Linked DNA regions of Homo sapiens. The protein of the gene in region 1 interacts with the protein of each later gene in a pairwise test. Each region holds a gene or a part of one and is shown on either strand. Other genes may lie near its edges.

The links.
Region 2: the proteins of SHPRH (region 1) and EDARADD interact in binary tests that used the Homo sapiens proteins (3 or more experiments, as listed by UniProt).

The regions. Positions count from the first base shown.
Region 1 is NC_000006.12:145,957,629-145,973,331, reverse strand, and holds the start of SHPRH (E3 ubiquitin-protein ligase SHPRH), read left to right. Parts: upstream 1-8,973; 5' UTR 8,974-9,601; intron 9,602-15,703. UniProt on the Homo sapiens protein: E3 ubiquitin-protein ligase involved in DNA repair.
Region 2 is NC_000001.11:236,386,421-236,402,493, reverse strand, and holds the start of EDARADD (ectodysplasin-A receptor-associated adapter protein), read right to left. Parts: upstream 8,209-16,073; 5' UTR 8,050-8,208; coding exon 7,989-8,049; intron 7,082-7,988; exon of another isoform or gene 6,865-7,081; coding exon of another isoform or gene 6,834-6,864; intron 1-6,833. UniProt on the Homo sapiens protein: Adapter protein that interacts with EDAR DEATH domain and couples the receptor to EDA signaling pathway during morphogenesis of ectodermal organs. Mediates the activation of NF-kappa-B.

The DNA.
Region 1 (15,703 bases):
GTTCCCAAACATCTGTCTCTGTATTGGTTTCACTGGAGTTACCTGAGATGGTTGGATGGTTTGGTTAATTTTTTAAAAATGAACTCCCAGGAGCTCATAGTCAACATGGGGGTGTTATGGCATAAGAACATAATTAGGCCGGGTGCAGTGGCTCACGCCTATAATCCCAGCACTTTGGGAGGCCCAGGCAGGCAGATCACTTGAGGTTGGGAGTTCGAGACCAGCCTGGCCAACATAGCAAAACCCTGTCTCTGCTAAAAGATATAAAAATTAGCCAGGTGTGGTGGTACGCACCTGCAAGCCCAGCTATTCAGGAGGCTGAGGCAAGAGAATCGCTTGAAACCAGGGGGCGGAGGTTGCTGTGACCTGAGATTGCGCCACTGCACTCCAGCCTGGGAGACAGAGTGAGACCCCATCCTAAAAAACAAATGAACAAACAGACAAAATAACATAATTAGTAATTATATACTATTATTGTGTGGTATTTAAAAATATTTAAGAATTTAAATTTATTTAAAGGCCTAATGAGGAGTTCAGAAATTTAACAGGGCTTAAAGGAAATGGAATTCAGATCTAATTTTGTCATTGTCCCAAGGTGACCTAAACAACACACAAATGTGGAAGTCAGAGCATGGCGCTGCCCTGCTAGTGGACGGAAGCTTTGGAAAGGTTCTTCATTTTCTGGCAAGCATCATTTTATGTTAAGATTATTATGAGTAAGATTTCTGGCAGAGACACAACAAAAAAAGAGAATTTTAGACCAATATCCCTGTTGAACATCGATGCAAATATCCTCAATAAAATACTGGCAAACTGAATCGGGCAGCACATCAAAAAGCTTATCCACCATGATCACATGGGCTTCATCCCTGGGATGCAAGGCTGGTTCAACATATGCAAATCAATAAATGTAATCGAGCATATAAACAGAACCAACGACAAAAATCACATGATTATCTCAATAGATGCAGAAAAGGCCTTTAACAAAATTCAACAACTCTTCATGCTAAAAACTCTCAATAAATTAGGTATTGATGGGACGTATCTCAAAATAATAAGAGTTATCTATGACCAGCCCACAGCCAGTATCATACTGAATGGGCAAAAACTGGAAGCATTCCCTTTGAAAACTGGCACAAGACAGGGGTGCCCTCTCTCACCACTCCTATTCAACGTAGAGTTGGAAGTTCTGGCCAGGGCAATCAGGCAGGAGAAGGAAATAAAGGGTATTCAATTAGGAAAAGAGGAAGTCAAATTGTCCCTGTTTGCTGACGACATGATTCTATATCTAGAAAACCCCATCGTCTCAGCCCAAAATCTCCTTAAGCTGACAGGCAAATTCAGCAAAGTCTCAGGATACAAAATCAATGTGCAAAAATCACAAGCATTCTTATACACCAATAACATACAAACAGAGAGCCAAATCATGAGTGAACTCCAATTCACGATTGCTTCAAAGAGAATAAAATACCTAGGAATCCAACTTACAAGGGACGTGAAGGACCTCTTCAAGGAGAACTACAAACCACTGCTCAGTGAAATAAAAGAGGATACAAACAAATGGAAGAACATTCCATGTTCATAGGTAGGAAGAATCAGTATCGTGAAAATGGCCATACTGCCCAAGGTAATTTATAGATTCAATGCCATCCCCATCAAGCTACCAATGACTTTCTTCACAGAATTGGAAAAAACTACTTTAAAGTTCATATGGAACCAAAAAAGAGTCCACATCGCCAAATCAATCCTAAGCCAAAAGAACAAAGCTGGAGGCATCACGCTACCTGACTTCAAACTACACTACAAGGCTACAGCAACCAAAACAGCATGGTACTGGTACAAAAACAGAGATATAGACCAATGGAACAGAACAGAGGCCTCAGAAATAATGCTGCATATCTATAACTATCTGATCTTTGACAAACCTGACAAAAACAAGCAATGGGGAAAGGATTCCCTATTTAATAAATGGTGCTGGGAAAACTGGCTAGCCCTATGTAGAAAGCTGAAACTGGATCCCTTCCTTACACCTTACACAAAAATTAATTCAAGATGGATTAAAGACTTAAATGTTAGACCTAAAACCATAAAAACCCTAGAAGAAAACCTATGCAATACTATTCAGGACATAGGCATGGGCGAGGACTTCATGTCTAAAACACCAAAAGCGATGGCAACAAAAGCCAAAATTGACAAATGGGATCTAATTAAACTAAAGAGCTTCTGCACAGCAAAAGAAACTACCATCAGAGTGAACAGGCAACCTACAGAATGGGAGAAAATTTTTGCAACCTACTCATCTGACAAAGGGCTAATATCCAGAATGTACAATGAACTCAAACAAATTTACAAGAAAAAAAAAAACAACCCCATCAAAAAGTGGTCAAAGGATATGAACAGACACTTCTCAAAAGTAGACATTTATGCAGCCAAAAGACACATGAAAAAATGCTCATCATCACTGGCCATCAGAGAAATGCAGATGAAAACCACAATGAGATGCCATCTCACACCAGTTAGAATGGCAATCATTAAAAAGTCAGGAAATAACAGGTGCTGGAGAGCATGTGGAGAAATAGGAACACTTTTACACTGTTGGTGGGACTGTAAACTAGTTCAACCCTTGTGGAAGTCAGTGTGGCGATTCCTCAGGGATCTAGAACTAGAAATACCATTTGACCCAGCCATCCCATTACTGGATGTATACCCAAAGGATTATAAAACATGCTGCTATAAAGACACATGCACATGTATGTTTATTGCAGCACTATTCACAATAGCAAAGACTTGGACCCAACCTAAATGTCCAACAATGGTAGACTGGATTAAGAAAATGTGGCACATATATACCATGGAATACTATGCAGCCATAAAAAATGATGAGCTCATGTCCTTTGTAGGGACATGGATGAAGCTGGAAACCATCATTCTCAGCAAACTATCACAAGGACAAAAAACCAAACACCGCATGTTCTCACTCATAGGTGGGAAGTGAACAATGAGAACACATGGACACAGGAAGGGGAACATCCCACACTGGGGCCTGTTGTGGGGTGGGGGGAGGGGGGAGGGGGGAGGCATAGCATTAGGAGATATACCTAATGTTAAATGAAGAGTTAATGGGTGCAGGAGACCAACATGGCACATGTATACATATGTAACAAAACTGCACGTTGTGCACATGTACCCTAAAACTTAAAGTATAATAAATTTATATATATACATCAAAAAAAAAAGATTTCTTGAGGTCTTAGATGCATTCTGAAAGTGCTATCCACTATTTTTGTACTTCAAAATGACACGATTGTGACCCTTGAAATACTCAGAGAATATTTTACTTGTAGATCTCAAAACTGCATAATAAATATTACTCAGAGTCATAAGTATCGACAGAGTCGTCGACAATATTCCTATTCTTTAATGCCTAACACCATACTGACAAGATTAATTGAAAAAATATGCCTTAGGGGAAAATGTAACAGTTGGGTATGGAGGGTGGGGAGGCTCTGGGATGGTGGGAAGGAGAGCCTATGATACAGATTATACTATCTTCATTGTTAAACACTGAATATAATCTCCTATCTTTCCTTACCAGCAGATTCACCTTCAACCTTCTTGCTTTTACCTAATTTAAATCGTTGCTTTATTCACACCTAAAACAAACACTGTCATAGGTTCATGTCCATTGCAGCATTTTGTGTACAGACTACAAGTTTTGCTTTAGAAGTTATGAGAGGCAGAAGGAACACAGCTTGAGGTTTTAGTTTTCAGGCTGAGCTTGCAGCAGGGGAGACCGAACAAACTTTGGGCTTGAAACCAATCCAACTTGTAAATCATCAAGGAAAAATGAAACAAAATTAACAATTAAATCTACCCAGGTCTAGTCTAGGGAAAAGCTGTAAAGTTCTAAATATGAGGATTTGGGTTCAATTCGCACACCTCCTGTCCCTGATATATCCTGCTCATGCTCCTGCAAAGCATGTCCGACCCTTGGTACCATTTTATGTTTGGTTGATCTGATACCACTCCTTTCAGCATAGCTGATGACCCCTGCTAGCACCAATTTTCCAAGACCATGTTTCTTCTTCCCACTCTTTTTTTGGTACTACATGCATTCTACCAGTGGTTTTGGACGTTGTAATTCATTCCAGAATAGCGGAGACTTTGATCCTAATATTTTCAATTTGTCAGAAGGGAAAGCAGTCCCAAGACAGGTTGGTAGTAGGAATTGGCAACAAGGAGTCATCTTTGGGAATCCCCAATCATACTGGGTGGGCCACCTACTTTGTTTCCAGAGAGCTGGCAAAGGTAGGTAGAATACAGAATAAATTTCTCTAGTCATTTTGTTAATGATCTATTCAGGAGAACACAGTGTTTGTACTGAATGATCCTTATTGTTGATATACAAGCCCTATGTCATTAAGTAATGACACACCTCTTGCCTTCAGTTTGCCCATGATTACTTAGTAAGTTTGAGGACTAAGTTGTATATTTTTATTTGATAGACAACATGATTTAGTAATAAGAGACAATAGCCTAGACAGAGGAATAAAGAGTTTTAGGTCCTCTTGTTCTCTTACAGCTAAATTGTGGCAAATTACCAAATTTCTGAGTCTCAGATTGCTCTCCTGTAAAATGGAAATTTTAAAAGCCTATTACTAGTCTAGGGATCAAATAAAAAAATAAACATAAAAGGGCTTTGCAAAATATAAAGTTCTTCACTGATAAATCATCATTTATCTTGTTTCTGTCCCTAAAGGGAGTTAAATTTGTCTTAACTCCTCTACTCCCTCTCAACTAGTCCTCCTCCTTGAGAACAACTTAGAATATTCATTTGTAAAATAGATGCCCCAGTTAGGGGTATGGCTAGAATAAAGCCACTGTCCCTAAAAGAAAATGAACCTACAGCTAAAGCTAGTGAGACCATACAAGGAAGAAAGTGGTCTGACTGATCTCATGTTATAGTTTCAAGAAGGAGCAGATGAACTCCGTGAACACTGAGTTATTCACTGTCAAGATGCACGATGTCCAATCAGTTCATTCTGATTTGCGGAATGTCATTAGATCACTAGCATCTAATAGGTGGATGAACTCAGTGTACTCAGGGGTGAACAGGTGTCTCACAGCTGGGAGCTGCCAGAGAGCCAAGGTGCAATCATGAACCATGTTTTCTGAAATTAGCTCTGATGAAAAATATTATTCCAGAGAGAAATTTTTCAAAGAATAGGCAGAGCATTTGGTAAATATAGGATTGAACACTGGAAAATTTAAAAGAATTTTGTTTCATTCTAATCACTGAATGGTAGTATACAGAATTCCATCTCTACAGTTGAAATTGCATCTCCATACGACAGACAACTGGATCTGAAGTTTAATATCTTGCATGGACATTACCATGATTACATATATAAATTACCCCAATCAAGGTGAACAAAGGTGAAATGATGCTGTGCTTATTTTTAAATATTTCTGCCTAGCACTAGTTGGATAGACTCAGCCAAACTTTGGGCCTAATTATCTGCTCCAATGATGAGAAGTGACATAAAACTATCAAAGATAACCTTACTCAGCACATCATATGTTTAAATAGCAAGTTGCAAATTACACTTTCAGAAGCAAGGTTACATCACCTTGTATTTGATAAAATGATTGGTTTGCCAAGGAAGGAGGATCCTACTTGCCCACTGTTCCAGCATTAGCACTACTTTTTCCAGCTTGCCTCATAAATCCTGGAATAAGGTAACTGATTTCCATCTATAGGCATACCTTGGAGATATCACAAGTTTTGTTCCAGGCTACCACAATAAGGCAAATATTGCAATAAAGTAAGTCACAGGATATTTTTTTTGTTTCCCAGTGCATATAAAAGTGACACTGACACTACAATGTAGTGTGTTAAGTGTGCAATAGCATTATGTCTAAAAAAAGTATCTACCTTAACTTAAAAAATATTGTATTGCTAAAAAAAATCTTGCTTAAAAAATATTGCTTAAAAAAGTTGGCTGCAGCAATTGACTCTTTATTTCACAAAATATTCCTCCATGATATGAACTGCTCTTTGATAGCATTTTACCAACAGTAGAACTTCTTTCAAAACTCAAGTCAATCCCCTTAAACTCTGGACTGCTTTGTCCACTAAATTTATGAAATATTTTAAAATCTTTGCTGTCATTTCAACAACGTTCACAGTATCTTCCCAGGAGTATATTCCATCTCAGGAAACCAGTTTCTTGGCTTATCTATAAGAAGTAACTCTTCATCCATTAAAGTTTTACTATGAGATTGCAGCAGTTCTGTCATATCTTCAGACCCCACTTCTAATTCTAGCTCTCTTGCTGTTTCCACCACATCTGCAGTTACTTCCTCCATTGAAGTCTCAATCCCTTCAAAGCTGAGACTTTGAGTTCCTGAGAGATGGAATCAACTTCTTCTAAACTACTATTAATGATATTTTGACCTCTCCCACCAATCTCAAATGTTGTTAATGACATACAGAATGGTGGATGTTTTCCAGAAGTTTTTAATTTACTTTGTCTAGATCTATCAGAAGAATTCCTATCTATGTCATCCATAGCCTTATTACTTCTTAAATAATAAGATGTCAAAGTTAAAATTACTCTTGATCCATGGGCTGCAGAATGGGTTTTGTGTTAACAGGCATGAAAACAACATTAATCTCCTTGTACATCTCCATCAGAGCTCTTGGGTGACCAGGTGCATTATAAATGAGCAGTAATATTTTGAAAGGAATCTTTTTTTTTTCTGAGCAGTAGGTCTGAACAGTGGGCTTAAAATATCCTGTACATCTATGCTGTTAAGTAGATGTGCTGTCATCCACACTTCATTGTTCCATTTATAGAGTACAGACAGAATAGATTTAGCATAACTCTTTAGGGCCCTAGGAGTTTCAGAATGATAAATGAGTATTGGCCTCAAATTCAAGTCATTAGCTGCATTAGCCCCTAACAAGAGAGTCAACCTGTCCTGTGAAGCTTAGAAGCTATGAAAGTCCTAGATGGCCTTTTCTTTCTATAGAAAGCTGTCTTATCTACATGGAAAATCTGTTGTTTTGTGTGGCCACCTGCTTCAATTATTTTAGCTAGATCTTCTGAAAAACTTGCCACAGCTTCTACATCAGCACTTGCTCCTTCACCTTGTACTTTGATGTTATGGAGATGGCTTCTTTTCTTAAATCTCATGAACCAACCTCTGCTTGCTTCACATTTTTCTGCTACAGCTTCATCACCTCTCTCAGCCTTCACAGAACTGAAAAAAGTTAGGGCCTTGCTCTGGATTAGGCTTTGGCTTAAGGGAATGCTGAGGCTGGTTTTATCTTTTATTCAGGCCACTAAAACTTTTTCCATATCAGCATGAGGCTGTTTCGTTTTCTTATCATTTGTGTTTTCATTGGAGTAGCACTTTTAATTCCCTTCTAGAACTTTTCCTTTGCATTCACAACTTAGCTAACTTTGGTACAAGAGGCCTAGCTTTTGGCTTATCTCAGCTTTTGACATGGCTTCCTCACTAAATTCCTTCGGTTTTCGATTTAAAGTGAGAGATGTGCCACCCTTCCTTTTACTTGAACACTTAATAGTCCATTGTAGGGTTATTAATTGGCCTAATTTCAATATTGTTGTGTCTCAAAGAATAGGGAGGCCTGAAGAGAGGAAGAGAGACAGGCGCCAATAGTGAAGCTTTCAGAACACACACAACATTTATTAAGTTTAGCATCTTCTATGAGCAGAGTTTGTAATGCTCCCAAAAAACTACAATAGTAACATCAAAGATAACTAATCATAGATCACCATAACAGATGAACAGCAAGTGAACACATGCTGCTTGAAAAATGATGCTGACAGACTTGCTTGAGTAAGGTTGCCAAAAAACTTCAATTTATAGGAAAACATATTATCTGCAAAGTACAATAAAGGGAAGCAAAATAAAAGGAGGCGGGGATTTGCTTATGGAAACAGCTTCGTATCTGTGATAAAGGAATATACTAAGTAAAATATGGACTACCCTGGACTGTCTAACACAACTACAACCGATATTCACTTGGACAAGAACTTAGTTCAAGTGCTTCTGTGGTCACACAACCCAAAAGGCCTCCACAGCAGAAAAGCTGCTATTAGGTACTCACTAACTAAGTACTGAGTCCCCAGTGTTTCCTGAGGGTTATTTCACAGGCTCCTGACCCTGAAGCCTCTCAGAGTTATTCCAACATTAAGGTCACTTCTATGAGGAAGAGGTGAGAGGAAAAAAGACCAATAGTGGAAGGCCAGCTTCAGCGCAACACATGTATTTAATAGTTTCTCTCATCTTTGAATATTTATTCACATTTCCCTTTAAAGTCTGTTTTTGAGGGGGAGAAGCTTTATTCGTACCTACTTAGTGGCTGCTTTATAGCAGTAAAATAGATGCTTTTGCAGAATTCTTTTCTGCTTTTCTTTTGTGAGACGGAGTCTCATTCTATCACCCAGTGGGGAGATGTCGGCTTACTCAATCTCTGCCTCGCAGGTTCAAGCATTCTCCTGCTTCAGCCTCCCGAGCAGCTGGGACTACAGGCGGGTACTACAGGCGCGCACCACAACGCCCGGCTAATTTTTGTATTTTTAGTAGAGACGGGGTTTCGCTATCTTGGCCAGGCTGTTCTCCAACTCCTGACCTCAGGAAATCCGCCCGCCTCGGCCTCCCAAAGTGGTGGGATTACAGGCGTGAGCCACCGCTCCTGGCCCCTGCCTTTTTATTAGAGATACAAATCACACACGCCCTTCGCTTCAAGGGGAGCCCCGCCCCCTACTTCGGGCATTCGGCCATCCTGTGTTCTCTAATGGCGTGGGGCAGAGCTATCGCGAGACTCCACTGTATCCTCAGCAAGTTTTTAACAGTGTGAACTTGCGCAGAAGAGACTCATGAAGCCAGCGCAGGAGAAAGGGGGCGGGGTGCTCTGACGAGCGCGTTCGCCTTGACCCCACGCTACAGCGCGCGCCCGGCAGCTAGGCGCTGTGGTTTCTGGGTCTCCCGGGGGACCCCTACACGTTCCGGCAAAAAGCGCTCGTGCCCACCTCAAGCCCATGTTCGGTGGGTGGCGAATGCGTGCCCGTGATCTGCTGGGTCTGTAGAGGAGCGCAGGCCTGGTGCAAACAGACTCAAGAGGCTCGGAGAACCAGCTTGGGTAGGCGCTTGGGTGATGGAAGGTCAGGGGTCAGAGGTCGGGAGGGAGGGAGGGAGGTGGTCTTTGGCCTCCGGGACCAGGGAGGGAGGACGCTGGTTGTCCTGGAGCCCGGGAAGCTCAAGGGCTGAGAGGGAGCCGCTGCGCGAGTCTTCCCCACCTCTTCCCGATCCCGGACTAGCGAACTTCGGACCACCACGTCCCTCCGGGGATAAAGTGGGGTCGTGGGAAAGGAGGCTGTGCTTCTCCTCATGCACTGGGGCCTGCGGTGTTTGTCTCGAGCGTCCAACACACTAGGATCCGGGAGTCCGTCGTCACGCTCCTTGGCCTCGCGGTCGCTTGTTTGCTCGGCCTGCTGGGAGCGATCCGGCGCTGACAGCCCCGCTCAGACTCCGGGAGCCGCTTGTGGGTCTTTCGGAAGATAACTGAGTGGGTACCGTGCGCCGCAGATCTACCCCCGGAGGCTGGAACTGGGTCGCCGCCTCCCTTCTTTGTGCGCGGCATTGTATTAGTAAAAGGGGAGGCAGAGGTTTCTCAGTCCCACTCAAAGTTCTCCGTTACCTTTGGAGCCAGATTAATTACATTCGAATTCAGAACCACTCTTTGACATTGTACAGTTTGACTGGTAGTTGCTATGTTTATGAACGAAGATAGGGTGTTATTTGATGATTAATAGTCACTGTATAATGATCAGTTAAATAATGACCAGGAAGCTTGTGCCCTTTTTCCAAGTAGTTTGACATTAGCACGAGGTAGAAATCCGAGATGTTTGATGCCTTCCAACTTGTACTTAAGGAACTTAAGGAACTTGGGGCTTTTTCTGAACAAAATAAGATAAAGTTATTACTGTTACTTTAAATTATTCCAGTGGGCATTAGTAGGAATGATGAAACTCTTGAATAGAAACGATCCATGATATCTCTACTGTCACAAAAAAGACTATTTAGTTTATGATTAGTAAACATGCTGGAGACAGAGCAGTCCTGAGCAGTATTGTAATGATTATGTCTGTGCTCGATAACCTGCACTTTCTAGAGCTTTAAAGGACCAGTTAACCAGTAAGCTGGCAATTGAGAATAAAATAGTTTACTTTTGAGAGATGCTCTTGTATATCCTCTTTGTCCACCCGAAAGGAGCTGGACTTACAGAATTATTAAAACAAAACTTTTATTATTAAGAGTTTAGGCCAGTAAGATTTAGGGGAAACAATTTGCTGGTGAAAAAGCTTCTTATGAGGGCATTTTTAAAGTTTATGTAACTAGCATATTTTAGCATTCAGTAGAAGAAAATACTCTCACCTTGCTGGAATTATTTCTACAGAAAAGGAAAAGATTATGTTAACCCTGGGTCATTAAGAGCTTCCTAGTACTTAGTAATGAGTGGGCTTCATTTCCATAACACAACATTTTGGACAGGAATATGGCAAGTATGTAATCCTTTTTGCCCTTAATAGCCTAAACCCAGATCTACCATGGATTTGTTGTAATTCAAGATTTGTGTGTATCTTTTAAAGAGGAAATAATATTTTGGAGGGAAAAAATGTGAATTTAAGTTGTGTTATTCATTTGTTGGATTGTCTTAGTAATGTAACATTTTATGTTTATTTTTCTAGCATTCCATCCTTGTTTTCTGTTAAAGATACAGTTCAGGCAGTTTTCCCTGCCTCGTTCTAGTATTTCATTTTTCTCAGAAATACTAGTTTCATATTACCTATAGTCTTCTAGAATGTGGATAAGAGAGACTTCTCCAAAAAGAAATAAGAGTAAAGTATCGTTAGGTCCTCAAAAGGAGGGAATACATCCACGGAATTAGAGATCTTTGTTTCACCCTTTTTGTATGTCTTTACTTCCTAGCACTGACCTGGCATTGGGAGTACAACACTGAATAGGATACTACTCCTGCCCATCTTTCAAAGTGAACACTCTAGCAGTTGGGATCGAGGAGAGAGAGGCCCTTAACTCAGCTTCTCTAGTCATGGAAGCCTTTCCAGGGAAGATTGGGATGGAGACAGGCATAAAAGCAATTCAAGCAAAAGGCTTTTATATTTAAATACAAGACAGTAAAAGTGCGGTCCATATAGAAAACTTCACATAATTACGTTTTACCCAAACACTGCTAATTAAGGAGGAGGAAGAAGTAGTTGTGACTGATAAGGTATGAATAAAACCAGAAGAATATGGGATGTGGTTAGATACAGAATTTCACCAGTACTTGACTTACTAGTTGCCAAATTGCATTTTAGTCATAAGTATATTTGACCAAATACTATTTTCTTTGGTTCAAGAAGTTAACCCTGAATAGAGATTTCCTTAAGTAAAGACTCAGTCAAAACCAGGAGCTTTTTGTTTGGTTGGTTGATTTTTGATCATGAATGTTTACTCAGTTAAGAACTGGACAAAGGGAGAGCATTGCTAGAAATTCTGGTGTTGACTTTTCTGCAGTTTATCATTATCACTGATAAGTACCTTGAGGCACTAATATTGGAAGAATCAGGCTGAAAGAATACATCTGAAGGAATGTGCAAATTATAATGGTGTACATAATTTAAAAGATACTGGATAGGTTTTACCAGAGAACAGAATAAATAGTTGAAGTAATGTTTTCTGGTTTGGTAATATGTCTGTTACAAAATTATTGTGGGAAACATGGCACATATTACTTCTCACATTCCATTGGCTAGGACTGGTCACAGGACCAAACCAAGCTGGGCAGTCATTTCTCAACTACTCTATACTTTGAGTGGAAATAAGTGGATTTTAGTTGGCAGCTGGTTATCCATAACAAGGTTTTTTGAACTTGGCTGCACCCTGGAATTTTTTAGGGATTCTAAAAAATAAAGGGAGTAGTGCCTGGGCCCTTCTCCAAGACATTCTGACTTAGTTGGCTCGACATCAGGATTTTTTTAAGTTCCCCTGGTGATTCTAATGTGCAGTCAAGTTTGAGAAGCACTAATCTGTGGTCCCCCATCCTGCGACATTACAGTTTGGTTATTGTGAAATGTGGTTTAGAGCAGGGGTCCCCACCCCTCAGGCCATGGACCGGTGCCAGTCCGTGGCCTGTTAGAACCGGGCTGCATTGCAGGAGGTGAGTTGCGGGCAAGCGAGCATTACCACCTGAGCTGTGCCTCCTGTCAGATCAACAGTCAGTAGATTACCATAAGAGCATGAATGCTATCGTGAACTGCATATGCGCAGGATCTAGGTTGTGCACTTCTTATTAAAACCTAATGCCTGATGATCTAAGGTGGAATAGTTTCATCCCTAAACAACCCCCTCTCCACTCCACCCCTCTCCTCCGGTCCATGGAAAACTTGTCTTCCATGAAACCCATTTATGGTACCAAAAAGGTTGGGAACTGCTGGTTTAGAGTGTTCTCAGGATGATGATAAGTAGCAACTACCATTTATGGAATACAGGCCAAATTTCTAGTACTGCTGTTGTACTTAAATTATTTCTAACCACAATCCTGCTATCATCCCCATTTTAGAGATGAGAAAATTGGCACAGAAGACTGGATAACTATTCCAATGCCACACAGTCAGTAAATGCCAAAGCTGGAATTAGAATGAATATAAGACTTCAAAGCATTGCATTCTCACCTTTAAGCCACATCGCTTTGCTAATGTGAGACTCTGCTAGACAGTTGCTTTTTGGGTTTTCAGAGTTAATGATTCCACAATAACCATGTTATTAATATTATTATGGTTAGTGTGATACATTGTGTAACTGGCCCAATTCCCTTCCAACACTCCCTCTACCCTTCCACCCCCCATATCCATGCTCTTTGCCATGTGCAGTTTCACCTAGTAAAGAGGTGTAGTATATTTCTTCACCACTTGACATTGGGTCCATGGATATGTCTTGCTTTGGTCTGTGGCACCTTAGTGGTTTTTAAGCACTTTGAAAACTACTTGTGTGATTGGATTTGCAGTAATACACCTCAACCATTGCCATAAAGAACATTCCTGAGTTACTTTGCTGATCCAAGGAGAGGGGATAGGAACTACATTAAGCAGAGCCAAACTGCTTTTCCAGAAACCTAGCCTAGATTAGCCTCCTTCAGCTAATGTGCAGATCTATGAGAATAAATGATTGCTATATCAAGGTATTGAGCTTTGAGGTAGTGTGTTACACAGCATGTTTGTGGCAGTAGTTAACTGATAAGCTACTATAGCATAACTTTTTAAAGTTCCTGCAGAGTGACCCACTTTCAGTATTCCAGCTTATGCTTTGAGGAAAACTGGACAAACATAAACACTTAGGAAATTAAGAGCTTTCTATATTATTCCACTAAGATAAGAGAGGATAAGATGCTTTAAAAGTAGTTGACCATAGCCAAGGATTGATTTTAATCCATCACCTGCACATTCATAAGTGAAGCACGGGCTAAGGGAATAGAATTCTCATGATTGACTTAAACAAGCACTGTCTGATACATAGACTTTTTGCAATTATGTGAATGCTCTATATTTGTGCTGTCCAGTACAGTAGCCACTAGTCACATAGCGCTACTGAGCACATGGGGCTAGTGAGACTGAAGAGCTGAGTTTATAACATTTAATTTTATTTATAGTCATGCATCACTTAATGATGGGGCTGTGTTTTGAGGAATGCATCATAGGCAAGTTTGTTGTGTGAACATCTTAAGAGTATACTTACACAAACCTAGGTGGTACCGCCAGCCTACTACACACCTAGGCTCTATGGTACAGCCTGCTGCTCCTAGGCTACAAACCTGTACAGTATATTCGGTACTGGATACTGTAGGCAGTTGTCACACCGTAGTATTTGTATATTTAAACATATTTAAATATAGAAAATGTACAATAAAGATATGGTATAAAAGATAAAAAATAGTACACCTTTGTGGGGTACTTAGCATGAATGCAGCTTATAACACTGAAGGTTGCTCTGGGTTAGTCAGGGAGTGAATGTGAAGGCCTGGGACATTACTGTACACTTCTGTAGACTTTGTAAACACTGTACACTTATGCTACACAAAGTTTATTAAAAAATAAAGTAATGCGGCTAGGCGCGGTGGCTCACGCCTGTAGTCCCAGCACTTTGGGAGGCTGAGGCATGCAGATCTTGAGTTCAGGAGTTCAAAACCATCCTGGCTAACACATGAAACCCCGTCTCTACTAAAAATACAAAAAAAAAGTTAGCTGGGCATAGTGGCAGGCGCCTGTAGTCCCAGCTACTCAGGAGGCTGAGGCAGGAGAATGGCATGAACCCAGGAGGTGGAGCTTGCAGTGAGCAGAGATCACGCCACTGCACTCCAGCTGGGCAACAGAGTGAGTCTCTATCTCAATAAATAAATAAATAAATAAATGCATTATGATGTTACAATGGCTATGATGTCACTAGTCCATAGGAATTTTTCAGCTCCCTTATGGAACCACTGTAATATTTGGTCCCTCATTGACCAAAATGTCATTATACAATGCATAACTGTATTGAAAGTTAAGTAGTCACATGCAGCCAATAACTACCTTATTGGATTTGCTTTGGCCAATAGTAGCTAGAAACTACTTCCTTGGAGGTGCCAAGGAAATCACTTCCTTTGAATCATAGGGCCACCTTGTTCCTAAATAAAGGTTCAGTCATCAGGGAAGGAGGATAGACCTTAGGCAGGTAAATAATGTCACTTTAGTTTCTTTTATGGTTATTGGTCTATTCATATTTTCCTTCTTGGGCCAGTTTTGTTCATTTGTATTTTGTTAGCAAAATTTTATCACTTTATAATTTATCATTTTATCTAGATTTTTCAGATTTATTGAATAAAGTTATACTTAATATTAAAATTTCTAAATCTCGTGCATCTTTTTGTTTTTGCTCTTTAAATCAACTTTATGATATAATTTATGTATAAGAAAATTCAATTTAAAGTATATAATTTGATGAGTTTTGACAGATGTATACTCTGCAATCATGTGTTGAACATTTATGTCACCCCAAAGCCTGCCTTCCTGCTCCTTTACTGTCAGTCACCTCTTTATACTTCCTTGCCCCTGGTAACCACTCATCTACTTTCTGCAATCAGGTTTTTGCCATTTCTAGAATTTCATGTAAATGGAATCATATAGTATATAGTCTTTCACATCTAGCTTTCTTCAGTTTAGCATAATGCTTTAACAGTTCATTCAGGTTATTTTACAGAAGTCTCTTTTTATCACAGAATAGTATTCCATTGTGTGACTATGCCACAATTTGTCCATTCACCAGTTGATGGACATTTGGGTTTTCTTCCAGTTTGGGGCTTTTAATAGTAAAGCTGTTAACATTCAAGTTTAAATTTTTGTGGATTTATGTTTTGATTTCTCTTGGATAAATACCTAAGAGAGGGATTACTAGGCTGCATAGTAAGTTATATTCAATTTTATTAGAAACTGATACTTTTCCAAAGTGACTGTGCTGTGTTCAAATGTTGGAGAGTTCAGTTCTGTTTGAGCCATACTCTCAGTGTTTTAAATTTTTGACTATTTTAGTATATGAATAGTGGCATCTCATTGTGATTTGTGGGTTGAATTTG
Region 2 (16,073 bases), on another chromosome or scaffold:
CCTCCACCTCCTGGGCTCAAGCAATCCTTCCACCTCCTCTTGAGTAGCTAGGACTAAAGACATGTGCTGTCACATCTGGCTAATTTATTTTTATTTTTGTAGAGATGGGGGTCTCACTATGTTACCCAGGCTGGTTTCAAACTCCTGAACCCACCTTGGCTTCCCAAAATGCTGGGATTACAGGCACAAGCCACCACGCCTGGCCAATAAAATAAAATTTAAAATAGAAGTGGGCTGGGCACAGTGGCTCACATCTGTAATCCCAGTATTTTGGGAGGCCGAGGCGGGCAGATCACCTGAGGTCAGGAGTTTGAGACCAGCCTGACCAATATGGGAAAACCCCATCTCTATTAAAAATAAAAAAATTAACTGGGCACGGTGATGGATGCCTGTAATCTCAGCTACTCAGGAAGCTGAAGCAGGAGAATCGCTTGAACCCGGGAGGTGGAGGTTGCAGTGAGCCGAGACAGCACCACTGCACTCCAGCCTGGGCAACAAGAGCGAAACTTGGTCTCAAAATAAAATAGAAGTGGTTCATACACTGACCACCCGACAGACTCTCTTGAGAAGGTGAGTGTCTGTGTGTCCCATTTCCCCTTTTTATATGGGCACCAATCATATTGGTTTAGAGCCCACTCTGATGATTTCATTTTGAATTGGTTACCTCTGGAAAGACTCTGTTTCCGAAGAAAGTTACATTCTGAGGTACTAGGAATTCCAACTTCAACATATCTTTTTAGAGGGGCACAATTCAACCCGTAACAGTTCACACTCTGCCCCCTGCCCATCCTTTCCACATGCAGAATCTATTTGCCTCCTCCCGACATCCCCAAAAGCGTTAATCATTCCAGCATCCACTCTAAATCCTAAATCTCATCTACTCTTCTTCAACTCAAAGACTCAAATCCCATCATCTACCAAATCAGAGCCTCTTCAGGAATGCTGGGAAACACGTACTGTATGCAACAGCCTCTCCAGAAAGAATCCTCAGCACATAACCCGAAACAGACACTGGTGGGGCGGCCGAGGACTGCACTGCCGCATTCTGACATCAGATAGCGGTGAATGCTTCCTAGAGACGGTTTCTCAAAGGAAGTTCAAACATCTCTAAAGATGTCCTTTCAGAGAAAACAAGGAAGTATGTCAGGACTTCCTGGCCTTCCCAAGCATCCTGAGCCAGAAAAGTGCAGTCACTGTGCTTTCTAGTGAAGAATTACAGGCAATTATTTGAATGTGTGATTGCAGGATTAATTTCTTTCTCATTTGTTATTTGTGTGTTGTTTTGTACCATAGCTTTTTTTTTTTTATTTGAGACAGTCTTGTTCTGTCGCCCAGGCTGTAGTGCAGCAGTGTGATCTCAGCTCACTGCAACCTCTGCCTCCTGGGTTCAAGTGATTCTCCCACCTCAGCCTCCCATATAGCTGAGATCACAGGTGCCCAGCTAATTTTTGTATTTTTATTAGACATGGGGTTTCGCCATGTTGGCCAGCCTGGTTCTTGAACTCCTGACCTCAGGTGATCCACCTCCCTCGGCCTCCTAAAGTGCTGGGGATTATAGGCGTGAGCCACCGCTCCCAGCCCATAACTTTTCTTTTGACTGCTATTGTCATTATTGGATATAAAAAAGGCTTGGAGGTGGGGTGTGGTGGCTCACTCCTATAATCCCAGCACTTTGGGAGGCCAAGGAGGGCAGATTGCTTGAGTTCAGGAGATTACTTGGGCAATATGGCGAGACCCCATCTCTACTAAAAATACAAAAAAAAAAAAAAAAAATAGCCGGGTGTGGTGGTACAAGCCTGTGGCCCCAGCTACTCAGGAGGCTGAGGTGGGAGGATTGCTTGAGCCCAGGAGATGGAAGTTGCAATGAGCCAAGATCGTGTCATTGCACTCCAGCCTGAGTGCAGAGCGAGACAGAAAAAACAAAAGGAAGTTTTTCTGGAGTCCTGAGACATATTCAGGATTCCAGAAGCTCTCAGAGCTGCAGGGGTGCTGCTGCGTGGTGGTGCTGACACTGTTTCATTGAGCTTCCTCTGTCTTTTCAGCACCTCACCCTGACCTCGGCTACTCTGTCAACCTCAGACCCCGCAGCAGGGGCTGAACAAGCTGGGAAAGGGGCAAGGATCACAGAAGTACATCCCTACAGCAACCTCTCTGGAGGGCAGCCGAGCATTAAGTGTGTCAGCCAGGCTACTGACGGGGGATCAAACAGAAGAGGGCAGGGGAGGATGAGGGAAGACAGCAAACAAAGAGATAAAGCTCAGGGAAAATGCTTGGGTAGAGAGAAGGAAACTCACAAAGCAGAGGCGTTGTAAGAAAGGAAGAGAAATGAAGTGAGCATTGGGAAAACCCACGTGGAGGAGAAAGAGAAAGGGCAGAAGGAGCAGAGAAGGGAAAACCACAGATTGCCATCCCTCTCTTTGGTGTATCTGCAGAAAGAATTGGCTGGTCCAGCTTTGCACATATGAGTGCTCCAGGAAGTGGTTTATCCTTTAGTCCTGGGTACTGCGCCCAATGCCACAGGAGGGTAGGTTGCCACCTTGGACCCATTGAAGCCCACAGGAGGGGCAGTGAGAGGTGAATGCCACCACTGGGGCTGTCCTGAGTTGGTGGCCCAGGCCCAGGGTTCCCCCAGGAAACAGCCCTGCGGTGTGGAGTCTCAGAACAAAGGGAGAATGTGCTCTTTTGCAATGCTCTGTGGCCGTCGGCACTTGCCTTACTGCAACGAAGCAAGGAATTGTGCCACCTTTGACCCAGACCTTCAAAGCCCGGTTGTTTGTTTCTGTCTGTAAAATCTATCTGTATGAACAATCATGAACAAACAGATTTTACAAACATTTGACAGACAAATCTGGCTCATCCATTGTGAGACTGTTTCTCAGTGGGAGAGACACAGGGTGATAGCTACACTATAACCACCATCATTGTTTTCCTTCCATGTGACTGTGACAGTCTTGTGAATTTTCTCAATGTAAAAAGTCACTTAAAATTAACTCATGGCCAGGGTGTGGCCAGGGCGTGGTGGCTCATGCCTGTAATCCCAGCACTTTGGGAAGCTGAAGCAGTCAGATCACTTGAGGTCAGTGGTTCCAGGCCAGCCTGGCCAACATGGTGAAACCCCGTCTCTACTAAAAAAGAAATACAAAAATTAGCCAGGGGTGGTGGCACACCCCTGTAATCCGAGCTACTTGGGAGGCTAAGGCAGGAGAATTGCTTGAACCCAGGAGGTGGAGGTCACCGTGAGCCAAGATCGCATCATTGCACTCCAGCCTGGGCAACAGAGTGAGATTCTGTCTCAAAAAAATTAATAAATAAATAAATACAATTAACTCATAATATACTATAATCATATACATACTTTTGTTATATGCACGTGGATATACAAACATCTTACTTTAACTTTACAAAGAAAACTTAGTTAATACGGCTAACTCGATGAGTAAGTTCCTAAAATGCCAATACGGGAAGAGCTTTTTCTCCCCCCAACTCTTTAAAGAGCCTGTGGTTAAATTTTATAACCTTCCTTCATTCACTGAGGTGGTATTTGCCCAGGGCTTACTATGTGCGGAGTACTATGCTGAGTGTTAGGGAGAGCTACCACACAGACATGACCTCTGTCCACGAGTTTATTTCCTACTGGAAATAGCCACGGTGGCCAAATAATCACAGCTAGAAATTGTGACAGGTGCCAGAAAGGAAAGGTACAGGGTTTGCTGAGCATGTATAACATCGGGCTGGATCCCGGTGACCTATGAGCTGAAATCTGGAGGTTAAGTAGAAGGAAACGGGTGGGTGGAGGATGGGGTGAGGGCTGGAATGCAGGGGTCCTTCCAGGCCGCAGGAACAAAGTTTGCAAAGGCCAGGAGGCACGAGGGTGCAAGAGGCTTCAAGGAAATGAAAGGAGGCAGCACGGCTGCGTGCAGAGAGCAGGGGTCAAGCTAGGTGTCAGGTGAGGCAAGTGAAGGAACAGGTAGGGATTGATTGCACAGAGTGTGTAAGCCTCAAGGACTGAGGATCTGTCGGAGTGTTGGAAAGCCAGCACCGGATTCAAAGCCAGCACAGACAAATGGCAGAATCCGATTTGTTTTTAAAAGACGACTGGCTGGGCACAGTGGTTCACACCAGTAATCCCAGCACTCTGGGAGGCCGAGGTGGGTGGATCACTTGAGGTCAGGAGTTCGAGACCAGCCTAAAAATACAAAAAATTAGCCAGGTGTGGTAGTGTGCACCTGTAATACCAGTTACTTGGGAGGCTGAGACAGGAGAATCTCTTGAACCCGGGAGGCGGAGGTTGCAGTGAGTGGGGATCACGCCACTGCACTCCAGCCTGGGTGACAGAGTGAGACTCCATCTTGAAAAATAATAATAATAAAAATAAAATAAAAGATGGCCCTGGCAACCTTTTGCAGAATAGGTTACCAGAAGGCAAGAGTGGGTGTGAAAACCTACGTTGGAATGGTGTGAAAACACCAGGCGGGAGAAGAGTGTGGGAAATCAGGCGAGAGAGTATGGTCACTTGGTCTGGGGTAAAGCGAGCTCAAGATATGGGCACCATCTATGGTTTCATTACAGAAATAGGAGTAAGGGGATGTCTCCTGTGGGTTGCAGAAACGAAACAATATGTTAGGAAGGGGAAATTGGGGTGTGTGTGTGCGCCTGTGTTTAAATGGAGGAGCGCTCATTTTATAGACAGAATAGAGTCCCAGAGCGGGAATGGACATTTGGATCATCTTTCAGATGGTCAAGTATGTTCTTCAGCATCCTCTGCCAACTGGTGGGGAGCTCTCACCCTTAGGAGGCCTCCTTTCTCTTTGTAGGAAGCCCAAATCCATCTCTCTCTAAAGTTTTCACCGACAGGTTTGGGTTCTACCTCTTGAAGTCAAAGAGACAGATTCTTTCCACATGACGCCCTCTTATCATCATATCCTCTGTCCTCTCACTCCTCCACATGTCCTGGGATTTTGAAATCCCTTTGTTCCATGTTGCCCATTTGTTCCAGGTTGTGCACATCCATTTTGGCTGGGCTGGGCAGACTAAGAACACCATCTTGGGAAATCTGGAACCTGTAGCTTTTTATTTATTTATTTATTTATTTTGAGATACAGGTTTTTGCTCTGTCACCCAGGCTGGAGTGCAGTGGCTTACTGCAGCCTCGACCTCCTGGACTCAAGCAATCCTCCTGCCTCAGCCCCCCGAGTAGCTGGGACTATAGGTATGCACTGGCACATTTGGCTAATTTTTCTATTTTTTGTAGAGTCAGGGTCTCACTATGTTGCCAAGGCTGATCTCAAACTCCTGGCCTGAAGCAATCCTCTTGCCTCAGCCTCCCAAAGTGCTGGCATTACAGGCCTGAGCCACTGCACCCAGCCACTGAGCTTTTTACACACTGTGGTCACTGCTGAGCTGTTTCCCAGCCCCCATCTTGCCTGGTACTGTCGATTTAGGGGAGCCCAAGTAGATTTTACATTTTATCTCCATGCAGTGTATCTCTCTCAAGATCTTTTTGAATTCCCCCACCCCCCACCCCTGCAATCATCATTTAATGAGATCTGAGGCCACTAGTAGTAAAATCCAGCCTAAAACACCCCTTGGCACCTTGTCAATTCAGTTCTCAGAAAAGGAGGTGGATGCTAGGGTAGGAGTGGAGTGGGATGGGGCAGTAGGAGGGTTTCTCCCTTTGTTTCCCCTTCTGTTTTTTCAAACAATAGGTATGGGGATGGGGAAGAATATCTAGACAATGTATTTATTTTCCGCATCCAATTGATAAAATGTTTAACAATCCCCACTTAAAAAAAAAAAAGGTAGATCTTTCTTTGAAGTTTCCAAGAAACGCCCCCAAACCCAGCCATCACAATGCCAACTTAGTTGTTGGGTGTAGTCTTCTGACCACCTGCAGACACACTGTCTCCTTTTGACTGCTGAAGCCACAATTTAAGGATGGAACATTCAAACTCGGCCCCTGCCCAAGCTCAAGAAATGAAATAGGAAACGCGTTTATCTAAACGGTTATATCAGGTTCTGTGTAACTCTCTTCAGTGTTTCCAACCTCAACAAAACCAAGTAAAGCCCCAGTGTACTCTGAGGGATAGATCATTCATTCGTGTGTTCAAGAAACACCCACGGATGTCACCGTCTAGGTTATAGGACAGCGGAGAGAGAGAACTCCAGGAAAGCGAGGTCTGGGACGGATTTTAGATTCACGTGAGAGAATAGAGAAAAATCTCCACTCCGACCTCGGGTACCAACACACAATATTTTAAAATAAAGACAGAACTAGAGGCCATTCTAATCACAGATGGGATCCCACAGGTGGGATCCGCCTCTCGATTCTGCGGATACTATCTGATGAAATAGCTCCGAGGGCCAATGTTTAGACAGACAAAACCATTTCATCAAAGTGCAATGGGAGAGAGGAAGAGGAGTAATGAGAAGGCATGTGAGCGGGGAGAAAGAAAAAGCCCGGGAGGCGAAAACGAAATCCACCCCCTTGCGCCCATTTCTGCCAGAGGTTTGCAGGACGTGTCTCAACCTGGCATCCCGAGTCCAGAACAAAAGCCACGGGGGCTGCGGCATGGGCAGGGGGAAGGCGCGCGGTGGCTGACGCGGGGCAGGGGCCCTGGCGAGCGCGGGAGGGGCGGTCAGCAGCCGCTCGCGGGGCTGGACTGGGAGCCCCGTGCGACTCCGGGTCTGGCGCCTGGGTCGGGGGTGGTTCCCGGGCCTCCCTCGGGGGTCGCCGAGGCCCGGCCTCGATAGCCCTGCGGCTGCTGCGAGCGCCTCCCGAGCTCCCGCCCCGCGGTGCTCGCTCCAGGAGCGGGCGCGGCGCTGTGTCCCTTTACCTGCGCGCAGAGGGTCGTCCGGTGAAGCCATGGCGGCGGGTTAGGGGCAAACGAGCGTCCGAGCGGGGCTGGCAGGCCTCCGGGGCGCGGGAGGACCGTGGGACCACGGGGATGAAAAGTCCTGCGGTTCCGACGCGCCTGGAGCAAACCGTGGCTCTGCGCGCCCCTGCCCTCCTCCGCCTTCCCCTCCCTTCTTCTTCTCCTCCTTCGCTTCTTCCACGAGCTCACTTCCTGCTTTGGCAATTAGCAAAGCCCCTTCGCTGCGCGTCCCTCGGTACCTCCCTCCAGAGGCGCGGGGCGGGAGCCGGGGTGCCGCGACCCGGGGCTGGGACGCAAGGCGGGGCCCCGAGTGTCCCGGGCGTCCCCAGCGCCCAGAGCGCGCGTCCTGCCCGGTACCCACGTCCCCCTGGGCGGGTCCTAGCGGGGGGCTGACACGACTGCCGCCCGGGACAGACTGCGAGCGAAGGACTGGCCTTAAGAAACGGCTGCAGTCGCGGGTCGCTTTCCTGGCTCCCTACTCACGCCCTCAGCTGAGACACCAGAACTCCCCTTACACAGGCCTGGGCTGAGATGCCCGCCGGCGATCTGATATTTAGACAAATTTCCTGATCTTTAAGCAGGCTCTGCCGCTGCATGATGGCACACGCTGGTACTTTCTATTTTGATTTTTCTTTGGCATTAGTTACTACATGACCTCCAGGGTGAGTGCTGCAGAAAAGGAGTGAACAGAAGTCGCCCAATACACACTCACAGCTTCTCTAGAAAAAACAGCTTCGGGTTCTCTCAGAAAAGATGGCTTCAAATATTTAAAATATTACGCTTAAGTGGGGTTTTATACCCATTACTTAAGTGAGAACACGTTGGAATTGGTTATGAAGAATATATTTAAGATTGCTACATTTTAACTAAAGCTATCATCCATCATAAGCCTATTATAGGAAGGCGACAGGCATTTTAAATTAAATAGGAATCTTTGAAGAGCTCTAAATAATCTTTCTCTGCCTTCACACATAAGAACAGAAAGATAAAAGTCGGGTCGAAAAAGATAATAATAGTATTTAGTGTATAATATATCCAAGAATTATCGTAAATAAGCAACCTCTGGCTAAAAACTCAGCTCTGAGAAATCCAGGAAGACAGCAAATGCCTACATACCCTCTTGGTGACCAGGAGCTTTAGTGCCTCTCCCCATCTGTTTAGTCGTCCTGAGGCCCATGGCGATGTTGAGTTTGGCTTCTTAATTCTCTGGAGTTTGCCATGGAAGAAGCAACAGATTGCGAGAAGATGCTCGCTGGTTGTCTGGCCAGAGTCAAACCTTCTAGATGAAAGCTCTCTGGGGAATTTGTAGGTGGGAGGATAAACTTCCTCTTGGTCTGCCTTCGGATAGGAAGGGAAATTTTTTTTAAGGGTATTTTATCTTAGAATCAATTTGGAGGTTTGGTTTGTGGTTCTTTCTGTACTTCTCATGGAGATGGAATTATTCTGACGTTGGCCGTCAGGAAACACTAGTTGAGTGAGCTTGTTAGCAGCCCAACCTCAAGCATTGCTATAAAGCTGGTTTGCTTTTTGAAACTCTGAAATGTAATTCATGTTTTTATCATTCCCATTCTGCATTATATCAAATAGAAGATGGTGGTATATTTTAAGGGTTTTTTTTTTTAAGGAAGATTGACTAGTTACGTAGTTATTACTCCCTTTCATTTTCATTTCCTCGTGCCTCCTTTCCTATGAATTGCAACGATCCCCATCATTACCTTTATTTTTCCCATGTGCTTTGCGAACTATAAAGTATGACGCAAATGGGTGCTATTGTTGTTTTGCACTTTACAAAAAAAGTAATTTAAAAATGATTCGCATTCACCAGAGTTCCCATACAATCAATTTGCTGTCACAATGTCCTTCAACTTTTATTTCTTTTGCTGTCCAAGAGTGTTTTAAACCACTATTGAAAATAGACATTTTTGGGCTGGGTGCAGTGGCTCACACCTGTAACCCCAGCACTTTGGGAGCCCAAGGCAGGTGGATTATTTGAGGTCAGGAGTTCGAGGCCAGCCTGGCCAATGTGATGAAACCCCACCGCTACTAAAAATACAAAAAACTTAGCTGGATTGGTGGCACATGCCTGTACTCCCAGCCACTCAGGAAGCTGAGGCAAAAGAATCGCTTGAACCTGGGAGGTGGAGGTTGCAGTAAGCTGAGATTGCACCACGGCACTCCAGCCTGGGCGACAGAGTGAGACTCTGTCTCAAAAAAAAAAAAAAAAAAAAAAGAAAGAAAGAAAGAAAAGAAAATGGACATTTTTAACATTTCCCGATAGTACCCAAACACTCAATCTCAGAGTCATGTGAAAAATTTCATATTTCCATAACTTCACTGCTCTTTGAGTGACCTCCAATTTTCCTTTTCCAATAAATGGAGATAGTGCATTTGGTAATCATGGAGTCAAATATGCTGGATTTCGCTGATGGACCTGTCACTCTAAGGTTGTGTTACATTAAGTAAGAAACCAAAACTGAGTCTGCAAGTGTCTGCAGGATTGTGAGAATTCACTGAAATAATGTTTATGTGAAAATACTGGCTGGGCATGGTGGCTCACACATGCAATTTCAGCACTTTCGGAGGCCAAGGTGGCAGGATTGCTTGAGGCAAGGAGTTCAAGACCAGCCTATGCAACATTTTGAGACCCAGTCTCTACAAAATAATTTAAATATTAGCTGGATCCCAGCACTTTGGGAGGCCAAGGTGGGTGGATCGCTTGAAGTCAGAAGTTCGAGATCAGACTGCCCAACATGGTGAAACCCCGTCTCTGCTTAAAATACAAAAATTAGCTGGGCGTGGTGACAGGCACCTGTAATCCCAGCTACTTGGGAGGCTGAGGCAGGAGAATCACTTGAATCCAGGAGGTGGAGGATCAGTGAGCTGAGATCATGCCACTGCACTCCAGCCTGGGTGACAGAGTGAGACTCCATCTCAAAATAAATAAATAAATAAATAAATACAAATACAAATACAAAAATTAGCCAGGTGTGGTGGCAGGCACCCAACTACTTGGGAGGCTGAGGCAGGAGAATCGCTTAAACCTGGGAGGCAGAGCTGCAGTGAGCTGAGATTGTGCCACTGCACTCCAGCCTGGGTGATAGAGCAAGACTCTGACAAAAAAAAAAAAAAATTAGCTGAGCATGGTGGTACATGCCTGTAGTCCCTGCTACTCTCGGAGGGTGAAGCACGAGGGTCACTTGAGCCAAGGAGTTACAGACCTCAGGGAGCTATGATCAGACCACACCACTGGGTGACAGAATGAGACCCTGTCTCCAGGCAAGCAAACAAACAAACCTAAACTAAGGCCTGTCATATAGTAGGTGCAAATAAACCAGCTACTTTCCTACCTTCATTCTTTCCTTGGAATTTAGTTTATTGAGAGAAGCTCCTATTGCCTTAGTTATAAGAAGTCAACCAATATTTATTACAGTGTTTGTACACAGCATGGAGCAATGGATTGATTGGTTTCATTCATTAATGCAATTTTAAAAATCTCACCCCCTCCCCATGAACAAAACAAAATTCCAAGCCCTGGGGAAATCCAAATGAGAAGTCCCTGACTGTTAGGAGTTTGTGGTCAAAAGAGATTTGCAAATACTGTTTTGCTATAGTACTGGAGAAATGAAAGTTTAAACCAGGAAAGATGTGTGTGTGGAAGGAGGCACTGAAGATGTATGGAAGCAAAGTGGCTTGGTCATGACCATCTCGGATTGACAGGGAAAGTTTCAGGCAAATTCCGAGGCTTTAACTCATGGGCACAAGGCTGCAGCCGTAAGTGTGGAAAGGACTGTTGGTCTCATGTCTTTTCACAAACAGATGACAATGATCAGAAATGTGCTGTTTTAAATGGGGGAAACAACAACTCAAAATATATTTTGTTTGATTCATCACAGAATACATGTTTTTGCTTATTTTATGCCATTTGAGGTAAGTGTTACAGTGAAATTTCTGCAATCTAAAAAGTTACATTATTGAACCACATGTGTCTTACTTCAAAGGATATGTACATTCCATACAGATAAAACCCAGCAAACTGGGCTGCTCAAGTGGGACTGATCTACAGAAAAGTGGCTAGAACCACGATGGTAAAATATAAATTTAGGAACATAAGAGACCCTATGCCTCAGAATGTGCCAGTTCCTACAGTTGAATTTGCTTGATATACCCTTAGTGAATCATATGTGATGGAAGATGCCCCAACAAGAGTTACTAAGTTTCCATGTCTCTGCATTTTTGGAACAGACAGTTGTTAAATTTTGCCCAGAGTGCTTTAAGGCAGTTGTACTAACTTCTGGTAATAGTGTCCAAGTTTTCTTCTTGAGAATCACTGTTCCCATCCTCAATCCAAGCAATTAGGTGGTGGCGACATCACCCCTGACTCCTGAGTCCAGGGGCTGGAATATGACTCAATTACAGCCTTTCAGGGCATTGCTACAGTGAGCCACTGAGTGGAGGAGGTGCGTGGGATCTTTACAGGGACAGGGGGACCGGTCTTAAAATAATTAGCCCAAGCTGGGCGTGGTGGCAGGCGCCTGTACTCTCAGCTACTTAGGAGGCTGAGGTGGGAGAATCACTTAAACCCAGGAGGGGGAGGTTGCAGTGAGTTGAGATCACACCATTGTACTCCAGCCTGGCGACAGAGTGAGACTCCATCTCAAAAAATAATAATAATAATAACAACTAACCCAAGAGCACACAGGTGGTAAGTGGTAGAAGGAAGGAGCAGGAGTGAAACATTTAGGAGGCTCTAGACTACTGACCTTCTTGAATGCCAGACAAAAGCATCTGAAACTAGTTTTTAGACAACAGGAAGCCAGGAAGCTAGTTTTTGAAAAGTGGCATGAGAAAATTGGTGTTTTGGAAGATTAATCCAGCAGCTGTGTGTAGGATGGAACAGAGCTAGGAGAGAATGCAGGGAGAGACCCTTTAATCCTTTTGATACACTGTAATTTATTAGAGTTGAATTTACATCCTCATCCAAATGCAGGAGAAACATATCAGAATTTTTTTTCCATACGTTATTGGGGTACAGGTGGTATTTGGTTAATGAGTAAGTTCTTTTTTTTTCTGAGACGGAGTCTCGCTCTGTCCCCCAGGCTGGAGTGCAGTGGCTGGATCTCAGCTCACTGCAAGCTCCGCCTACCAGGTTCACGCCATTCTCCTGCCTCAGCCTCCTGTAGCTGGGATTACAGGCGCCCGCCACCACGCCCAGCTAATTTTTTGTATTTTTAGTAGAGATGGGGTTTCACCGTGTTAGCCAGGATGGTCTTGATCTCCTGACCTCGTGATCCGCCCGCCTCGGCCTCCCAAAGTGCTGGGATTACAGGCATGAGCCACCACGCCCGGCCATGAGTAAGTTCTTTAGTGGTGGTTTGTGAGATTTTGGTGCACCCATCACCCGAGGAGAATACAGTGCACCATATTGGTTGTCTTTTATCCCTTGCCCCCTCCCACTCTTCCCTCAAGTCCCCAAAGTTCACTGTATCATTCTTATGCCTTTGCATCCTCATAGCTTAGCTCCTACACATCAGTGAGAACACACGATGTTTGGTTTTCCATTCCTATCAGAAAATATTAAATCTTCTTTTGCTACCTTCTTGTTTTTGAGACAGGGTCTTGCTCTGTCTCCGAGGCTGGAGTGCAAAGTGTAGTGGCATGATCACAGCTCACTGCAGCGTCGTCGTCCTGAGGTTCAAGCAGTCCCTCCACCTCAGCCTCTTGAGTGTCTGGGACTACAGATGTACCCCACCACGCCTGGCCAATTTTTTTATTTTTATTTTTTGTAGAGACAGGAGTCTCACTACATTACCTAGGCAGGTCTCGAACTCCTGGGCTCAGGGAATCCACCTGCCTTGGCCTCTAAAGTACTGGGATTACATGTGTGGGCCACCATGCCTAGTCTTGTTACCTTCTTAAGCATTCATTATTATACAGGAGTCAATTGCCTTGTAGATTTTGCATACATACATAAAATTATCTGGAAAGTTTTATTCCAAAATGTCAACAGAGGGACAGAAGCTTAAGTAAAATATTACCTTTGTGCTGATTTGATTTCTGTTTGTCAGAGACACAGCATTCCAGTGCGTGTATTTAAGCATGAATCTTAAGTTCCTCTCTTCACTTATGCAATACCCTTCCTCACACAGGAGATTAAATCTCTCTTGTCTACTTGCAGTTTACTTTGAATTGTTTACTCACTAGAAGCATGAGCAGTGTTTGGTTTCCCACAAACAGAATGGCAAAGTGTGGGTGATTCTTAGTATGGTGTATTGCTAAACACACTTAGAATGCCCTGGGTGGGGAGTGGTAGGTGCAGAGCAGAGAGGAGGGATGGGATGGGGTGAAAAAGTGTGGCTGTGCAGAGGGCACTTTTATTCTACATATCCTCCTGTAGCCTCGGGATCCTCACTCACAACCTTGCAGGTGTTCCTGGTGCCTTGATCATGGGTGCTCCCACACCCAGCACCATTTCCAGCTGCTTTTTTAGTGAATGCCTTCATACATAGCAATTTATTTCTTGCTTCAGATTTTGAGATAAAATCTGTTCCAAAAGATGAACTTCATATATTAAAACCTGAAACCCAAGTAATGAAATTCAGCTAGAGAAGTTTTTTGAGGGATGTTTGCTTTGGTTATTGCTGTTGCAAGAAAAGGACAAATGGAAAAACAATCTAGTGTTATCAGTGACCATAGCTAGCGTTCAGTATCTTTCTACTCCCAGAATGGAGAACACAGGCTCAGACTGGTAACTCAGGAATCTACAAAATGATCAATCACTTTAAAAATTCATTTAACAAATTGTCATTTAGAACTTATTCTGAGCTAAGACAAGAAGGTGGACTTGGATCCAAGTGAGTCACCTGAGAAACTATTAGAACTAATAAGTGAATATAGCTTGGTGGGGAGTTATCAAACACCAAGAGCTTTCTTATATGACAACAATATCCAACTGGGTGCGGGGGGAAGGTCCCATTTAAATCAACAAGTAAAACTATAAAGTAACTAGAAATAAATTCAATAAAACTGTGTGAGAGCATTATTGCAAATACTACAAAGCTTTAGTGAAAAACATAAAAAGAAATCTGACGGAATAGCAAGCTATACCATGTTAATGGATAAAATGTCTCAATATTGTAAAGATAGTCATGATTCCTTAATTAATCTACAGATTCAATGCTAACTCAACCAAATTAACAAGACTTTCTTGGAACATAAAACTGATTGCAAAATTCATATGGGAGAGTAAATTCAAGATCACTTTGAGAAAGAATAACAAGGATTTGTCTTACAATATAGCAAGATATGATAAAACAACAGTAGTTAAAACACTGAATATTGGTACAAGAAAAGTGAAAAAAAGATTAATGGAACAGAACAAAAATGTAAGACACAGACTCATGTATGTGTTTGGAATATGATAAATGATAGACACATTTAAATGGTCAAAAGACAGTTCAAATGGTGTTGGGAGGATACACACACACACACACACATACACAATGCAATTTATATTTCTGTCTCACCCTATACACAAAAGTAAGCTTTGGATAGATTAAAGATCTAATTGTAAAACATTAACTTTCAAATTATTATTATTATTATTTTTTTTTTTAATTTATTTTTTTATTGATAATTCTTGGGTGTTTCTCACAGAGGGGGATTTGGCAGGGTCATGGGACAATAGTGGAGGGAAGGTCAGCAGATAAACCAGTGAACAAAGGTCTCTGGTTTTCCTAGGCAGAGGACCCTGCGGCCTTCCGCAGTGTTTGTGTCCCTGATTACTTGAGATTAGGGATTGGTGATGACTCTTAACGAGCATGCTGCCTTCAAGCATCTGTTTAACAAAGCACATCTTGCACCGCCCTTAATCCATTTAACCCTGAGTGGACACAGCACATGTTTCAGGGAGCACAGGGTTGGGGGTAAGGTCACAGATCAACAGGATTCCCAAGGCAGAGGAATTTTTCTTAGTGCAGAACAAAATGAAAAGTCTCCCATGTCTACTTCTTTCTACACAGACACGGCAACCATCCGATTTCTCAATCTTTTCCCCACCTTTCCCGCCTTTCTATTCCACAAAGCCGCCATTGTCATCCTGGCCCGTTCTCAATGAGCTGTTGGGCACACCTCCCAGACGGGGTGGTGGCCAGGCAGAGGGGCTCCTCACTTCCCAGTAGGGGCGGCCGGGCAGAGGCGCCCCTCACCTCCCGGACGGGGCGGCTGGCCGGGCAGGGGGGCTGACCCCCCCCACCTCCCTCCCGGAGGGGGCGGCTGGCCGGGCGGGGGGCTGACCCCCCTACCTCCCTCCCGGACGGGGCGGCTGGCTGGTCAGAGGGGCTCCTCACTTCCCAGTAGGGGCGGCCGGGCAGAGGCGCCCCTCACCTCCCGGACGGGGCGGCTGGCCGGGCGGGGGGGCTGACCCCCCCCACCTCCCTCCCGGACGGGGCGGCTGGCCGGGCGGGGGGCTGACCCCCCCACCTCCCTCCCGGACGGGGCGGCTGGCCAGGCGGGGGGCCGACACCCCCACCTCCCTCCCGGACGGGGCGGCTGGCCGGGCGGGGGGCCGACCCCCCCACCTCCCTCCCGGATGGGGCGGCTGGCCGGGCAGAGGGGCTCCTCACTTCCCAGTAGGGGCGGCCGGGCAGAGGCGCCCCTCACCTCCCGGACGGGGCGGCTGGCCGGGCGGGGGGCTGACCCCCCCACCTCCCTCCCGGACGGCACGGCTGGCCGGGCGGGGGGGCTGACCCCCCACCTCCCTCCCGGATGGGGCGGCTGGCCGGGCGGGGGGCTGACCCCCCCCACCTCCCTCCCGGACGGGGTGGCTGCCGGGCGGAGACGCTCCTCACTTCCCAGATGGGGTGGCTGCCGGGCGGAGAGGCTCCTCACTTCTCAGACAGGGCAGCTGCCGGGCGGAGGGGCTCCTCACTTCTCAGACGGGGCGGTTGCCAGGCAGAGGGTCTCCTCACTTCTCAGACGGGGCGGCCGGGCAGAGACGCTCCTCACCTCCCAGACGGGGTCTCGGCCGGGCAGAGGCGCTCCTCACATCCCAGATGGGGCGGCGGGGCAGAGGCGCTCCCCACATCTCAGACGATGGGCGGCCGGGCAGAGAGGCTCCTCACTTCCTAAATGTGATGGCGGCTGGGAAGAGGCGCTCCTCACTTCCTAGATGGGATGGCGGCCGGGCGGAGATGCTCCTCACTT